Linked DNA regions of Homo sapiens: region 1 is linked to region 2. The links come from fine-mapping of genetic effects on gene expression. A gene starts in region 2. The other region holds a variant in brackets. All regions are shown on one strand. Distances are between the middles of the regions. Region 1 overlaps PRRG4 (proline rich and Gla domain 4). Region 2 holds the start of EIF3M (eukaryotic translation initiation factor 3 subunit M).

What was found. PIP is the estimated chance that this variant, and not a neighbour inherited with it, causes the effect. A credible set is the group of variants that fine-mapping cannot tell apart.
Region 1: its variant is the best candidate, but not a certain one, in a credible set for the expression of EIF3M in whole blood (INTERVAL, PIP 0.57).

The regions. Positions count from the first base shown.
Region 1 is chr11:32,856,638-32,865,130 of GRCh38, reverse strand. PRRG4 (proline rich and Gla domain 4) reads right to left here. Exons shown (of 6, transcript NM_024081.6): 6 at 7,011-8,493. Among named protein-coding and RNA genes, the nearest start is that of PRRG4, 31 kb to the right of the region's middle. The variant C/T (reference allele first, on the strand shown) is at 5,044.
Region 2 is chr11:32,580,199-32,588,691 of GRCh38, reverse strand. EIF3M (eukaryotic translation initiation factor 3 subunit M) reads right to left here and starts at 4,861. Exons shown (of 11, transcript NM_006360.6): 1 at 4,763-4,861; 2 at 1,548-1,680; 3 at 1-98. The coding sequence starts at 4,804. RefSeq lists silencers at 1,886-1,985, 5,016-5,075 and enhancers at 4,706-4,855, 4,498-5,150.

The DNA of each region.
Region 1 (8,493 bases), 280 kb before region 2:
GCCACCAAGCCCAGCTAATTTTTTGTATTTTTAGAAGAGACAGGGTTTCACTATGTTGGCCAGGCTGGTCTCGAACTCCTGACCTCAGGTGATGCACCTGCCTCGGCCTCCCAAAGTGTTGTGATTACAGGCATGAGCCACCATGCCCGGCCAATCTTAGTGAAATTATAAGACATTTTGATTTTTAATTCTGAAACTGTTTCTTTTGAAAACTTTTCAGATTCATATCTTAGAAGTTCAGCTTTTGTTGTGTCTCACTGCTTTCAGCTTATTCTCCTCTTGAGAAGGCCTGAAATGAGAAATCTCTCCTTCTGCTTTTTTATCAGCTTCTGTAACTTTTTTCCTCTGGTTCTAACTGTTGTTGTGGCCTGATGCTGAAAAGTGGTATCTTGAAGGTCTGAAAAAGCAATGCTTTCCTCCAGTATAGCTTGATTCTGTACTCTTGACTTTTCTTGATATGTCTAAATTTTTAAATGTAATTAGGAAACTTCTCATGCAATTACTAAGAGTCATGTATTCCCTTGCTATGCTATACTCATAACTTTGAAAACACTCTTCCTGTGTCTGATTAAGTTCAGGTACTCTATTCTTCAGGTTTGATTTCTAGGTTATCTAAATGGGCTTCTCATAAGGAGAAGCAATCACACTGCAAATGTTTTCTCTTTGCCTTTCTGGCAAATGGCTTAAGAAACAAGATTTTGCATTTTATTAAGATAATTCCTGGCCTGGCATGGTGGCTCATGCCTGTAATCCCAGCACTTTGGGAGGTCAGTGTGGGCAGATCACTTGAGGTCAGGAGTTCGAGACCAGCCTGGACAACATGGCAAAACCCCGTCTCTACTAATAATATAAAAATTAGCCAGGTGTGGTAGCGCGTACTTGTAGCTACTCGGGAGGCTGAGGCAGGAGAATCCTTTGAACCTGGGAGGTGGAGGTTGCAGTGAGCCGGGATAGTGCCACTGCACTCCAGCCTGAGCGACAGAGCAAGACTCTGCCTCAAAAAAATAAAAATAAAATAAAAAAGATAATTCCTATATTGTCTGTATTAATTTTTTGCTTCCTTAGGAAACTTGAGCTTTAAAAGAGTTAAGGCCAATCACAGTGGTTCATGCCTGGAATTCCAACACTTTGGGAGGCCAAGGCAGGCAGATCACTTGAGCTCAGGAGTTTGAGACTAGCCTGGGCAACATGGTGAAACCCTGTCTCTACAAAAAAATATTAAAAAAATAGCTGGGTGTGGTGGTGTACGCCTGTGGTCCCAGCTACTCAGGGGAGCCTGAGGTGGGAGGATTGCTTGAGGCTGGGGGGCAGAAGTTGCAGTGAGCCGAGATCGTGCCACTGTATACCAGCCTGGGCAAGAGTGAGACCCTATCTCAAAAAAATAAAAATAAATAAAATGGTTAAAATTTGTATCTTCATGTCACTTTCTGTATTGCTCTTGAAGTATTTTGACTGTCACTCTTGATTAAATGAATAACTATTCTGTTTTTATCAAATATTTTGAGGCTTTTTACATCTTTGACAAATGTCCTCAAAATCAAATAAACATTGCTAATTCTTTCAACATGTAAAGCTTTTACATAAGTCAATTTTGTAACCTTGCCTTTTGGTTTTTGGTTTTTGGCTCTTTTGTTACTTAAAAGGGTTTTAAGGGTTAAGTGTCTACTCACTTCCATTCCCATCTGGCTTAGAATGATTAATTAGCTATAAGTTTTTTTACTCTAAGTCCCTTGGCCATAGGGATCCCACCAAGGGACATGATGGACCTGGGTCAGGTAGCCACACCATCCTGGCAACAATATGGGACAAAATAAAAGTTTAGCCATTGATGCTGCCTCTGGCATATCTTGATCAAAAAACAGAAATTTAAACTAAAAAATGAAGTCCTAAGCACCCCACCAATCGAATGGATCCCCCTTGACCAAGTGAACCCCCAAGAAAAAAAACTTAAAAAAAAAAACATAGTTCCCAGCCATGAGAGGACAGGAGGTCAGACACACTTCATTATACCCTTTTCCTTTTATGGTTTAGACACAGCAACTGACCAGAGTTAACATTAAAACATAAACTCTTTGTGGCAATAAGATACCAAAGTATAAATAGGACCTAAGGCCATGCCAGGCAAGAGTTAAGTCTCCACTCCAAGGAAAACATGGGTCATATGTTACATATATGTTTGTTCAATATGCATGTGTCAGGACCACCTTCATAAATATTTATAGTTCCTTCTGTAACCTGCTAAATATGTATATTTAGCCAACCTGTCAATATCCCCACAGGGGCCCTGGTTACAATTGAGAGTGAGGAACAGGTTTATTTACTTACGGATATGAGGGCCACATATTCTATAGCTAGTACCTATCTATGCCCTGATTCACAGAAGACTATGATGGTTATGAAAATGTCAGGGAAATCTATGACTTGCTCCTTCCTTCAACCTTTAGATTGTCATCTTGGAGACCATGATCAATGGGAAAAACTAAAAAAAAAATGAACCAAACTCGAAATAAATAATTTAGCAATTGCCAAATATGTTAAGACTCTAGGCACTATACTAAATTCTATTCATGAGTTTGCTTCTAGCAGGATCACTTATTCCACAAACATGGCCCTCCATCCTTCTCAACTGGGAGATCAGGTCCTCCTAAAAACCTGAAAGGAACAAGGACCTGAACGTCAGCTTGCTACCAGGTCAAATGGTTTGGTTTCACAGTTGCCCCACATGAACCTTGTTCAACAGGGAGTAGCCAGATGAGAGACAACATCCCATTGTCCCTAATTCCACAAGACTGTGGAATGAGCCTTTCACAGTGGGGAATTGTAACAGTGAAATAGCAAAGAACTAACATAACTAACTCAATTTTTGTTTAAGTGGCCTTCCACCATTCCAGCTAATTTTAGAGCACTGAAATAATATGCAAAAACAGTAATCATGTAATTTTTACAACTAAGTCTGGGATTAAAGGGTAAGTATCTAAACAACTAACTATGTTTTGTTAAAGATTTACAGGAGCATTGTGAACTGACCAAGGGCAAAGAAGTTTCCAACCTCCTCTGACCCTTGCTGGTGCCCAGATATCTGCAGTCCTCGGTCACCTCTTGATCCCAACCCCCTCCTCTTCGCTTTATTCCCCTCCCATAAAAACTCTCCAGCCAACCTGAAAATTTAAGATGGTGCTTTAGCATACAGTTCACCATCTTGTCAATTTTGCTGGTTTTCTGAATGAACCTGGTTTCCTCCCATCAACCCTTGTCTCTTGTGTCTGGCTTTCTAGCAGCAAGCCGTTGAACCTGGGTTCAGTTACACTTATGCTGAAAGTAGAACAGAGAAGGAAATGGAAAATAGTGGATCAATCAAGGAAGTACAATATTCAGCCAATATGAATCGCAGAAAAAGCAGAGAAAACAAAGGTAAGGAAACTAGCAAAAAATTACACAGGAGTATTTCCTAGAATTGGAGGGCACAGATCTCTAGAATAAAAGGAGGTATTGGATGCCATGAACAATAAATGAAAACTTATCCCAAGCCTCAGAATCATAATTTTTTTTTTTTTTTGAGTCAGGGTCTCACTCCGTCACCCAGGCTTGAATGTAATGGTGCAATCTTGGCTCACTGCAACCTCGGCTCACTGCAACCTCCACCTTCCAGGCTCGGTTGACCCTTCTGCCTCAGCCTCCCGAGTAGCTGGGACCACAGGCAGGCACCATCACGCCTGGCTAATTTTTTTTTGTATTTTTGGTGGAGATGTTGTTTCACTATGTTGCCCAGGCTGATCTTGAACTTTGAGCTCAAGAGATCTGCCTGCCTCAGCCTCCCGAAGTGCTGGGATTACAGGCATGAGCCATCGCACCCAGCTATTTTTTTTTTTTTTTTGAGACAATGTCTTGCTCTCTTGCTCAGGCTGGAGTGTAGTGACCCAATCACAATTCACTGCAGCCTCAACCTCCCAAGCTCAGGTGATTCTCCCACCTCAGCCTCCAGAGTAGTATGGAGTTTGTACCATCAAGCTAATTTTTAAAAAAATTTTTTGTAGAGACAAGGTCTCACTATGTTGCCTAGGCTGGTCTCAAACTCGTGGGCTCAAGCCTCCTAAAGTGTTGGAATTAGAAGTATGAGGCACCATGCCTGGACAGACTCATGAATTTGAGATCACCAGGGATGAAAAGATTTGAAAGGTTCCAGTGGGAAATAAAGGGTCATGTGCAAAGTCATGAAATCAGAATTATTGTTAGAATTCTTGATTGCAATCAAATGCTAGAAGACATTAGAGGAATATCTACAAAATGCCAAGGGAAATGATTATTAACCTAGAACACGATACACAGCCATGTTATAAATCAAATGTGGGGTAAAGAAGACATTCAGGGATATGCTAGGACTGTGGGTTTGATCTGATCTTCTTCAGCTCCTTTCCATCTGGGTGAATCTGCCTTGGTCAGCTAAGGAGTAGGACCAGTTTCCCAAGCTGCTCTCAATTTATTGTCTCTGATATAAGCACTTTAATCAGTTTATGGCTATTTAATGCTAGGAATTGTAGAAAAATGAACAGGTAAAATTAGTAAATAGTGAGACATTACAAGGTTTTCAAGAAACAATAAGATATTAGCATTAGTTGTTATATGATATTTATATGACTTTACAATTGAAAGACTTTTTATTTATTTATTTATTTTTTGAGACAAGGTCTTGCTTTGTCACCCAGGCTGGAGTGTGGTGGCCCAATCTTGGCTCACTGCAACCTCTGCCTCCCAGGTTCAAGTGATTCTCCTGCCTCAGCCTCCCAAGTAGCTGGGATCACAGGCTTATGCCACCATGCCTGGCTAATTTTTGTATTTTTAGTAGAGATGGGATTTCACCATGTTGGCCAGGTTGGTCTCCAACTCCTGACCTCAGGTGGTCCAACCACCGCAGCCTCCCAAAGTGCTGGGATTACAGGCATGAGCCACCATGCCCAGCCTGAAAGACTTTTTAAATATGCTTATATGAAAGGAAAGATCATATGGAAGGCACATGAAGGCCTAGAAACTGGCACATGATAGGGC[C/T]TTTGGTGGACAGAACCTAAAGTGATTCTCAAGGCTTGCTCACTTCTGGTATTTACTCCTTTGTAGAATCTTCTCCTGATGAGTTAATAAAACCCATGACTTCTTTCTAACCAATAGAAGGTGATGAGATGTCACTCTTGTGAAGATGTTATATTATATAAGGCCTCATTTTATAGCAGGCACACTCTAGAGGTCTCTTTGCTGGCTTGACAGAGTGAGGGCCATGAGGAGGAAGCTGATGTGGCAAGGAACTACAGGTAGGTTCTAGGAACAGCAGGCAGCTTCTGGAGCTATGGTTGCCTTATTGTCTCCTGCCCATAAAGGGTTTCAGTCTTACAGATGCATCAGAATGAATTCTGCTAATAATTCAAGAGAGACTTCACAGTGGAGTTTTCTATAGTAAAGCCTCCAGATGAAAACACCTTGACTCCAACCCTGGCCAACACCTTGATTCCAACCCTGTCAAAGCTTAAGTAGAGGACTCTGCTAAGCTGTGCCTGGACTCTGACTGATAGAAACTGTGGGATGTGTGTTGTTTGAAGCTGCTAATTTGTGGTATTTTGTTATGAAGCAATAGAAAACTAGTATAGTGTTCAATACATGCTAACTCGCATTGCCTAGAAAGACAAATATCATATTATCTTACTTATATGTGGAATCTTAAAAAGTCATACTCCTAGAGCCTGTAAACCCAGAAACTCCAGAGGCTGAGGTGAGCAGATAATGTAAGCCCAGGAGTTTGAGGCTGCAGTGAGCTGCAGTGAGCTATGATTGCACCACTGCACTCCAGCCTGGGCAACAGAGTGAAACCCTGTCTCTAAAAAAGAATTAGAAAGTCTTTCTCATTCCATTGTCTGGATGTGCCACAGTTTATTTATCCATTCACCTACTTAAGAACATCTTGGTTGCTTCCAAGTTTTGGCAATTATGAACAAAACTGCTTACAAACACCTGTGTGCAGGTTTTTGTGTGGGCCTGAGTTTCCAACTCTATTGGGTAAATAGTAAGGAGCATGATTGCTGGATGATATGGTAAGAGTATGTTTAATTTTGTAAGAAACTACCACTGTCTTCCAAAGTGGCTATACCATTTTGCATTCCCACCAGCAATGAACAAGAGTTCCTGTTGTTCCACATCCTCACCAGCAGGATGTTTTGTGGTGGTAGTGTTTTAGATTTGGGGCATATTAATAGGTGTGTAGTGACATCTCACTGTTGCTTTCATTTGTAATCCCCTAATAACCTATGATGTCAAACATCATTTCATATGCTTTCTTGCCATCTGCATATCTTCTTTGGTGAAGTGTCTTAGTCTTTTGCCCATTTTTAAATTGACTTGTTTGTTTTCTTGTTGTCGAGTTGTAAGAGGTCTTTGTTTATTTTTGGACACATTTTATCATACATGTCTTTTGCAAATATCTTCTCCTGGTCTGTAGCTTGTCTTCTCATTCTCTTGATAAAAGTAATTTTAAGGAGTATAAATATTAACATTCATGTCTAACTCATTTGGATCCAAAAAAATTTAAGGTGGTCTAAATGTTTAACATTAAATAATACTGAATAATAATCAATGTTCACTTATGTGTATGATACTTCGTATTACTTCTTTTAAGCTGGAAGTCTTGCTATATTACTCTTATAATTTAGCATAACATTACTACTGATTTTTTCAATTATGTATAGATATAGCTCAAAAAATAACTTTAGTATTAAGGAGTAATATATTTGCCTCAAACACTATATTAAATATTTAAATTTTGTTAAAGAAAATACCACTTTCACAACTGCAACTAAATTGTCTAAATAGAATGCTAGCCCCATTGGGTGAAAGATATACATTGACATCATGCTATAAATATTGTTTTGAAAACACTCAATGTGTTGTTCAAATTTAATTAATATAATATCATATTTCATTATATGCCATTATATGAGGAAGAATGCTTAAATGAAACAAGCAATAAATACTCACTTGGTATAAAGTTTATTTGCATGTGTAAAAAGTGTATATAACAGGAAACCTCTTAAAATAAAAACATAGTAAAGTTTTAGGAAAAATATGAATTTAGAAAATGGGTTGCTTTTTCAGATCACAAAAATACTGATATATGTGTACTAAATTACCTTAAACTGTTGAGGTGTTAGAGAAACATTTTTCAAAAAACAAAAAAAGTTGGAGGTTGGAGGAGACACAAAATATAGAAGAATGAAGGTACTGATATATGTCACACATGTTTTAAAATGACCACACAGGCAGAATCTACAAAAGAATCAAATTCTTTAAAAATACAGAAATGCTAGAGATTCCCCTAATAGTGTTAATGGCATACATAACATTCCAAATCAAATAACTAATAAAAATTTAATTCACATTCAATTAAAACAAAAACAATATGAGTAATGTGAAATTGAGTTTTTGTTAAGCACTGACAAATATTTAGCATTAAAAAGTCTCTTGTACGTCTAGGAAGAGTACACACACATAAATTATCTGAGAAGTAGAAAAATATGGATTAGAATTTTAGAGGCAAACTTGAAACCTAAGACATGGAGGACACTGTTGCTCTGCAGGTTTTAATTGTTCTGAGAGTTTTCTCTATGTATTTGTTCAGAGGGCATTAAAAGATGCAAAACTTGGGGCCAGGCACAGTGGCTCACGCCTGTAATCCCAGCCCTTTGGGAGGCTGAGGCGGGCGGATCACCTGAGGTCAGGAGTTTGAGACCAGCCTGGCCAACATGGCAAAACCCCATCTCCACTAAAAATACAAAAATTTGCAAGGCGTGCTGGCAGGTGCCTGTAATGCAGCTACTCAGGAGGCTGAGGCAGGAGAAATCCTTGAACCTGGGAGGCGGAGGTTGCAGTGAGCCATGATCACTCCACTGCACTCCAGCCTGGGTGACAAAGTGAGACTCCTTCTGGAAAAAAAAAAAAAAAAGATGCAAAACTTTGACACAGCAGTCCAGTGTGGTGGCTCATGCCTGTAATCCCAGCACTTTGGGAGGCCGAGGTGGGTGGATTCCTTGAGCTCAGGAGTTAGAGACCAGCATGGGCAACATGGTGAAACCCTGTCTCTACAAAAAACACAAAAATTAGCCAGGTGTACCGAGGTGCACCTGTGGTCCCAGCTACTTAGGAGGCTGAGGTGGGAGGATTGCTTGAGCCCCGAAGTTCAGGCTACAGTGAGTTGTGATTGCACCACTGCACTCCAGCCTGGGTAGCAGAGCAAGACCTTGTCTCAAAAAATTAAAAATAAAAATACTTTGACATAGTCAAAGTTTGTGCTCTCTTTAATTTTTTTCATTATCAAAAGAGAATATTCTATATGGAATTGTCTGTCCTACCAAAGGTATGACCTTGTAAATGTGTATTTGTCTTTTCAATCCAATTCTCCTTTTATATCCATATTTTACTCATTTCTTAATTGTAATAAAGTGGAAAACTGATCTAATT
Region 2 (8,493 bases):
GACCAGCTTTTCACATAGGCTTTCAATCAAAGCTTCTTGCTTGTCTGGTTCCAGGATCAAGAGTAGGGATACCACACTGTTCATCACACTTTCAACATCTACACAAGTATGGATAACACAATCAACAGTGATACTACAATACTCAATGCGTCTAGTTAAATATGCATTTCCAGTGTTTTAATACAATGAAGACCATCAAATGTAAGACACTTTCGCATTCAGAAAGCAACTTGTATATTTTATTAAAGAGGAAGGAAATTGATACCTAAGATGTGGTTTCTTTTTTTTTTTTTTTTTTTTTTTCAGATGAAGTCTTGCTCTCTTGCCCAGGCTGGGGTGCAGTGGTGCGATCTCGGCTCACTGCAACCTCCGCCTCCCAGGTTCAAGCGATTCTCCCGTCTCAGCCTCCCAAGTAGCTGGGACTACAGGCACCCGCCACCACGCCCGGCTAATTTTTGTATTTTTAGTAGAGACGGGGTTTCACCATATTGGCCAGGCTGGTCTTGAACTCTTGACCATGTGATCCACCTGCCTCGGCCTCCCAAAGTGCTGGGATTACAGGCGTGAGCCACTATGCCTGGCCTATGATGTGGTTTCTAACTAGTAAAACAGAGACTGATTTACATGTATATAAAGTTTCAATTTTCACTGTCATGATATTCAATCATTTGGAAGTTACTGGTATGATTTAGGACTAGGATACTTTCTTAATTAAGGAAAACTTTGTGTATACATATAGGAAATCAGAAATTAAAGCTGTCAGCTCTCTGCTTGAATTAGTTATTTTTAAGTATTACAGATATTAATCATATCCCAAATTTAATCTAATTTTTTTGTATATGTGCTGCCGAAATCAGCATCCAAGTTTGATCTCTAAACCTTAACTAGAGATTTCCGAACTCAACAATTCTGAAAATTTCCCATTCTATCTCAATAAACAGGAAACTGGCCTAATAATTAAATGGCTATTAGATTACTTGAAACTGTATCCCATTTGATGTTAATCTGAAACTTATGAACAGGAAAGAGCTTCATTTTTTTCATTTTATTCTAAGACTATAAGCATTTAGTGTAATAACACTTAAGAAATACACCTATGTATAAAATAAAGGTTTTCTCAAAATAGGTTTACTTTATAGGTATAATAGATTACACAAACTGAAAGCATGTGTGAAGGTAAGATTGAAAACAACAGTGCTTAGACTCTGGTTAACAATGTATTGTATAGTTGAAAGAGCTAGAAGAGAACTGTTGAATGTTTCCAACATAAAGAAAAGATGTGTGATATTCCAATTACCCTGATTTGATAATTACACATTGCATACATGTATCAAAATATCACCTGTGCCCCCAAAATACATACAACCACTACCTATCTATTTAAAAGTCCTGTAGTCTGAAATTCAAAACATATAAATACAGTCAGCCTTCTGTATCTGAGGGTTCCAAATCCTCCTTGCCTCAGATAATGAGGGACGACTCTATAATTCACAAGAAAAATTTAAAAGATTTTATTAGGAAATATTAGAAAAAAATTAAAAACAAACCTTTATCATCCTCCTTCAGACACACATCACAGGCTTCAATAATTTGAGCTAAATCAACATGAAGTCCACCTTCCGAGTTCTCTTCTGAAATCTCAGCTCCTTTAGATTTCAGATAAGCACGAAGCTCAGCAGCCTGTTGAGGATTGCTCTATTATAAAACTGACTACGAATGACAAAGCACAATCTCAAATTCTGTCCTCTTTCTGAAAAACTAAAACGGAAATACTGTATTCAACAACTATTTCAAATAATGTTGAAGACCCCTCCCTCACCTCATCCATCTTGGCAATCCCACAAGAGCCACAGGTTTTCCTCCATGAGGTCCAGTGGCTCCTTAGACACACTACAGCCCCCATGGATCACCTTCAGAATTTCTCTCATGTAGTCTGCACCCTGCTGGACTTCCAGCATACAGCAAAAATCTTTTTGATAATATAACCCAAAGGGTTTGGTGGGGGTGTGGTTGCTGGGGAGAAGAAATCAATCTGACTTGGCAGATTTCATTTTTTTGAAAGAAATGAACAATAGTATTGCTCTCAAGTACACACATAACCACAGCTACTAGAAAAGTTACAGACATTACCTTGGCAAAAGGGTAATCATTTGTTAATCAGTTGAGAAGCTATTTGAGATAAGCATTTTGGTTCACAAAAGGGCAATGCGGTGAATGCTGCCTTAAAATTACATCGAACTGGATCTGTTATGTAACTAATCTCTTAAAATTAAAAATGCATATCTGAGTCAGCATGCATCTTCGGACCTATAAAAACACAACTACAATAGCACATTCAGTCACTTGGACATTTCCTACCCTACTACCGAATTATATATATTTATTCCATTTTTCTTCTGGGACTCTTTATGGCAGCCAAACAAACGCAGTTTTTTTTTGTTTTGTTTTGAGATGGAGTTTCACTCTTATTGCCCAGGCTGGAGTGCAATAGCATGAGTGCAATGGAGCGATCCCGGCTCACTGCAACCTCTGCCTCCGGGGTTCAAATGATTCTCCAGCCTCAGCCTCCCAAGTAGCAGGGATTACAGGCATGCGCCACCATGCCCAGCTAATTTTGTATTTTTAGTAGAGGCAGGGTTTCATCATGTTCGTCAGGCTGGTCTCAAACACCTGACCTCCGGTGATCCACGGGCCTCGGCCTCCCAAAGTGCTAAGATTATAGGCGTGAGCCACCGTGCTCAGCCTGGTTTTAAAGATAATAAAATGAGGATGTGCAACAGGAATATGAAAGGATACCATTAGTAAATGCACAGGCATTACATTTTCTAGACCAAGCCAAAAAAAAAAAATTCAAAGCCATCAAGATTTTTAAACCCCCAAGTATATTTAGTTGCCTCAGGAAAGTATTAAACCTGCAGATCTGACGGTACTATCCTTTCAGGTAACAAGAACACAGTAACTTCATAGAAGAGTTGGTATTATAAGCAAAATTAAAAAAAGAAAACAAACTGTCACCATGTCAGAGAAAACAAAAATACCTCCAGAAATCATGCTTCATGCTTCTCTATGGAGGAAACAGATACACAGCAAACTTTTTCTAAGAACTATTGAACCACGTTTGCTGTTTTTCTGTCATCCTCACTGCCACAAGTGGTTGTGGAAGCAGCATAAGCAAAGGAAAACAAAAAAAGATAAAGAATTCCATTTAACTCTAATCAAGCTGAGAATTTCACCAAAGTTAAACTAATCCTGAGCAATTTCATATTTCCCTGAAAGGACTGTCTACAGCGATACTGATGTTACAAGAACAGAAGCAGAGCCTGAGAAAAGACACTTTAAGATACGATCAATGACAAGAACTTCCTCCATTCACTTTGTATGTTAAAAAAAAAAAAATTCCAAACACTTTCTCAGTTAACCTAACAGCCAACTGTTGGTAACATGCTTCCATTTCTAATCAGGTATCTTTTTGTCTTTCATATCTTCCTATCTGTGCTTAACCTCCCCATCCTTGACCTTTTCTCCGCCTTTTGCATTTTCCCTTCTTACTTTGCTCTTCAGAGCATCGGAACTGCATTCCTACCATGGGGCGGGGGGAGGAGAGAGGGGGAACTCACTCCCGCAATTCTGTAAGTTGTCTTAGACAAGTAAACTTCCATGCGAAGTTTATGATATCCAATCATTTGGAAGTTACTTCCGTGTTAGTGGAGTAACAGAAATAAAACGACAAAGTTAGGACTTCACAGAAGAATTTTCAGCAATACAAAATTAACTTAAAGAATACGATGTCGTGTTCAACTCCTACCAAATAAGGTTAAACTTTTGTTATGGGGAAAATGAGAACCATCAGCCCTGTATACCAAAGAGCAAACGCCAAACGGGAAATTTAAAAATATCAGGATGGTCCATCAGGTGTATGCCTCACAGAATTTAAGAGCTGAACTGATACCATACTTCCGGGGTACAGAACAACTCTCACCCTCATACAAGTAGGAATAGAAAGCAAGTGTAAAATACGGGTCGTCTTCGCCTGTGATCGCACAGTAATACGGGCGTTTTGATCTTTTTTTTTTTTTTTTTTTTTGAGAGGGACTCTCGCTCTGTCGCCCAGGCTGGAGTGCAGTGGCGCGATCTTGGCTCACTGCAAACTCCGCCTCGCGGGTTCAAGCGATTCTCTTGCCTCAGCCTCGGCAGTAGCTGGGACTACAGGCGCGTGCCACCGCGCCCGGGTAATTTTTTTGTATTTTTAATAGAGACAGGGTTTCACCGTGTTAGCCAGGATGGTCTCGATCTCCTGACCTCGTGATCTGCCCGCCTCGGCGTCCCAAAGTGCTGGGATTAAAGGCGTGAGCCACCGCGCCCGGCCCGGCATTTTGATCTTTAGCACAAAATTACTTTTCCCTACCCTGCTTATGCTAACTACAGATTCACCACCTCCCACTCCGAATGTGGCTGCATTTGACGGACGGAAGCAGACATCATTCCTCATCAGTCTAAAAGTACTATGTCGTCAGAAATGAGTCCCGACGCCGACCAGGGAGCTGGCGGTGAAGCGTCGGGCCCCGCGCTGGGACCGCCGGCCGGCGAGCTGGTGCGAATCGAGGCCAGGAACGCGCGCCCCAGCCACCGGCCTCCCCATTCTCGCGTGTAGAACAGCTGCGGGTGTCAGCCCCGGCCGCCCGGCCCAGGCTCGGCAGCGGTCCCTTGCGCTACTAGGACATCCCCCACCCCACCGTGGCGGCACCCGTAGACCGAAGCACACCTGATCTTCTTCACTGATGTCGATGAAGGCCGGGACGCTCATGGTGCAGGCCCGGGCACAGCGGACACTCCACTCGCAAGACCACGCCGACCGGAAAAGGGAACTGGGCCGCGCGACGCTGCTGGCGCAACTGCTTCCGGGTCACCCTGAGCGGCGACCTGTTGGGGCGGGGCCTTGAGAGCCAATCCTATCGCGCGCTCTCGCCGCGGAATGCAGCAGGGCGTGGCAGACGCGCTCGGGCTGGCCTAGTGGGTGGGACTTACTGGGCCTCCACTCAGCGACGCTTGTCGCGGCCTCCAGTTTTCAGGCCCGTGTAGCTAACTGCATTGATGTTGCCTCCCGCTGGCGCCTCCCTAAGTCCACCTTCCCTTGAAATGTTAAGCTTGTTGGGTCTTACCAAGTATGGATGGGTTTGTGTAGACCTGAAACTCTCCTGTACTGCTGTTGGGAACATAAAATGGTGCAGTCACTTTGCAGAGGAGCGGCAGTTTCTGAAAAAGTTCAGTATCCACCCAGCATATGACCCAGCTATTCTTCTACCCAAACTGTATGTCCGTACAAAGACTTGTACAAGAATGTTCATTGCCGCTTTTAAAAAATAGCAGCTTTGGCTGGGCGCAGTGGATCTCACGCCTGTAATCCCAGCACTGTGGGAGGCCGAGGTGGGCGGATCACTTGGGGTCAGGAACTGGAGACCAGCCTGGGCAACATGGCAAAACCCCGTCTCTACTAAAAATACAAAAATTACCGGGGCATAGTGGTGCGCGCCTGTAATCCCAGCTACTCGGGAGGCTGAGGCAGGAGAATCACTTCAACCTGGGAGAAGGAGGTTGCAGTAAGCCCAGATCATGCCACTGCATTCCAGCCTGGGCGACAGAGCGAGACTCCGTCTCATAAAATAAATACACAATTCAGTAGTTTTTAGTATTTTCAGAGTTGCACAACCATCACTACTATTTAATTTTAGAACATTTTCATCACCTACAAAAGAAACTACCCATCAGCAATCACTCCCCAGACCCCCGGCCCCACCTCTCTCCAGCCCCTGGCAAACACTACATTTTGTCTCTATGAATTTGCCTTTTCTGGACATTTCATGTAAGTGGAATCACAAAATACACGGTGGCCTAAGTCAGACTTACTTCATTTAGCATAATGTTTTCAAGGTTCGTCCATGTATCCCTCCTATATTCCTATTTATTGCTTATAATATTGCATTGTTATGGATATACCACATTGTGTTGATTTGTTCATCAGTTGGTGGACACTTGGGTTGTCTCCATTTTTTGGCTATTATGAATAATGTTTCCATGAACGTTAGTGCACAAGATTTTGTGTGTACGTATATTTCTCTTAGGTATGTACCTATGAGAGGAATCAGTGGCTTATTTAGTAAATTTATGTTTAGCTTTTTCAGGAGACAGTTTCCAAAAAGTTAACACTTTATTTTCAATAGCCAAAAAAAAGGAAACAACCCAAATGTTCATCAATAGATGAATGAAGTGGATCAAAAAATTGTTATACATCTGCTTAATGGAATACTGCTGTGCAACAAAAAAGGATGAATTATTGATACATGCAAAAACACAGATGAATCTTTTTTTTTTTTCAGTCTCTTCAGCCTGGGTGACAAAGTGAGTGAGACTCCATCTCTTAAAATAAAAGCTTGATTTTTTTTCTTTAGTTGACAATCCCAAAATAATTCAAAATAATTTTGTTCAGTTAATCATCATACTGTATGATTCCATTTATATAAAACTCTAGAAAGTAGAAACTATAATGACAGCATTATAGATTGCTGTTGCCTGGGGGCAGGGATTGGGTAAGGCGGGGGGAAAGATGGATACAGAGGGGCTTGAGGAAGTTTTTGGGGGTTATGGATGTGTTCATTATTTTGACTGTGATTGTGTCATGATTGTATACATATATAACATTTTTCAAAGTGTGCAGTTCAAAAATGTGCAGTTTATTGATACCACAATTATACTTCAATATAAAATAAATGCCAAGCAAAGGAAAAAAACAAGGTTGAGGGGATAGAGGACACAAAACATCTGGCTAGACTAAATTTGAAAGGATTCATTCTTGCATGGAATAGCCTTAACAATGTGGAAAGTGAAACTGAAGGCAGGGAACCTGTGTCATGTTCACCCTGCATTTCCGCACCCACCTCAGTGCCCAGCCCACAGCAGATCATCAGGAAATACCAGTTGATTCTGAAGGAATAATCCCTGGGCTCCTCCCCTCGCCTTATTATTGCAAAGTTCGAGGAATACAAACTCAACAATACAATACCATTTTATCAAATATTTAAAAGACTTGTCTCTTTTTTACTATTGTTATTTTTTTTTTCATTCTGTGATCCTTGTGAAGTAAAAGAACACCCAGGGAAATTCTTGAGAGAGGATATGGACAGTTATTTAAAACTTTAAACTTTCATTCATTCAAAATAAACACACACACACACACACACACACACACACACACACACACACGATGGAGGTGTGGTAGGCCCGAGTAGTCTTGGGAAATGCAACATTTGAGTAGGAAATGCGGAAATGCCTGTCCTCAGTTATTTAAAACTTTAAACTTTCATTCATTCAAAATAAACACACACACACACACACACACACACACACAGGATGGAGGTGTGGTAGGCCCGAGTAGTCTTGGGAAATGCAACATTTGAGTAGGAAATGCCTGTCCTCACCTAGGTCAGGATGAATCTTGTGAGACAAAGTAGCAAACCTAAGAAGGAATGTTTGCTCATTCTGTTTGCCAGAGAATTTCGCAAAGCCCCTGACTCAGTGAGTGAGGGCAACCCTCTGGAAGAATACCCTAAAGATAAACAGGATAGAGCACAGGTCCCCATTCTCTTGCCTGAATCACTGCAGTTTTAGAAAACATAAGTTCAATGATCCTAGCCTCTGCCTCTTCATGTGCATGGGTATAATGCACACCCATGTCTGACAGCAATAATGATTATGTCTCCATAATCTATAACCAGATGGACCCTGGCACCCAAACCATGATGTGATTTCGCTCTAATGTAACTTCTGAGCACATTTAATGTAACTTCTGAGCACAGGCAGAGCCACCACTGATGTACACAAACTGTGTGCGGAAACACTGCTTTGGAGCAGTTTAACAGAAACTCTCTGGAAGACTCTCTGGGTTGCAATCCTCGGTAAGACCTCTGAATAAAACTAACTTTAATTCTTTAAAAGCTTGGCTGGTGCGGTGGCTCATGCCTGTAATCCCAGCACTTTGGGAGTCCAAGGCAGGTGGATCACTTGAGGCCAGGAGTTCCAGGCCAGTCTGGCCAACATGGTGAAACCCTGTCTCTACTGAAAATACAAAAATTAGCTGGGACCTGGTAGGCTGAGGCAGGAGAATCACTTGAACTCAGGAGGTGGAGGTTGTAGTGAGCTGAGATCACGCCACTGCACTCCAGCTTGGGCGACAGAGTGAGACTCCAAAAAAAAAAAAAAAAAAGGAAAAGGAATCACCAGGGAGTTGAACAAAGCCCCACCATCTGCAAGGCAGTATTATCTTAGTTTAATTTTTACCTGAAAAATACAACCAAATATGTACAGTTTTTCTTTATTGTTTAATTTGTCTATGTTCCCTTTGTTATCTCCTTTCTGATTAAAAATTCCGGAAAATGTGGATTTAACTATGTTTTTAAGTATTCTATTTGCAAGAGCCATATTAATATATTTGCTTGAAAT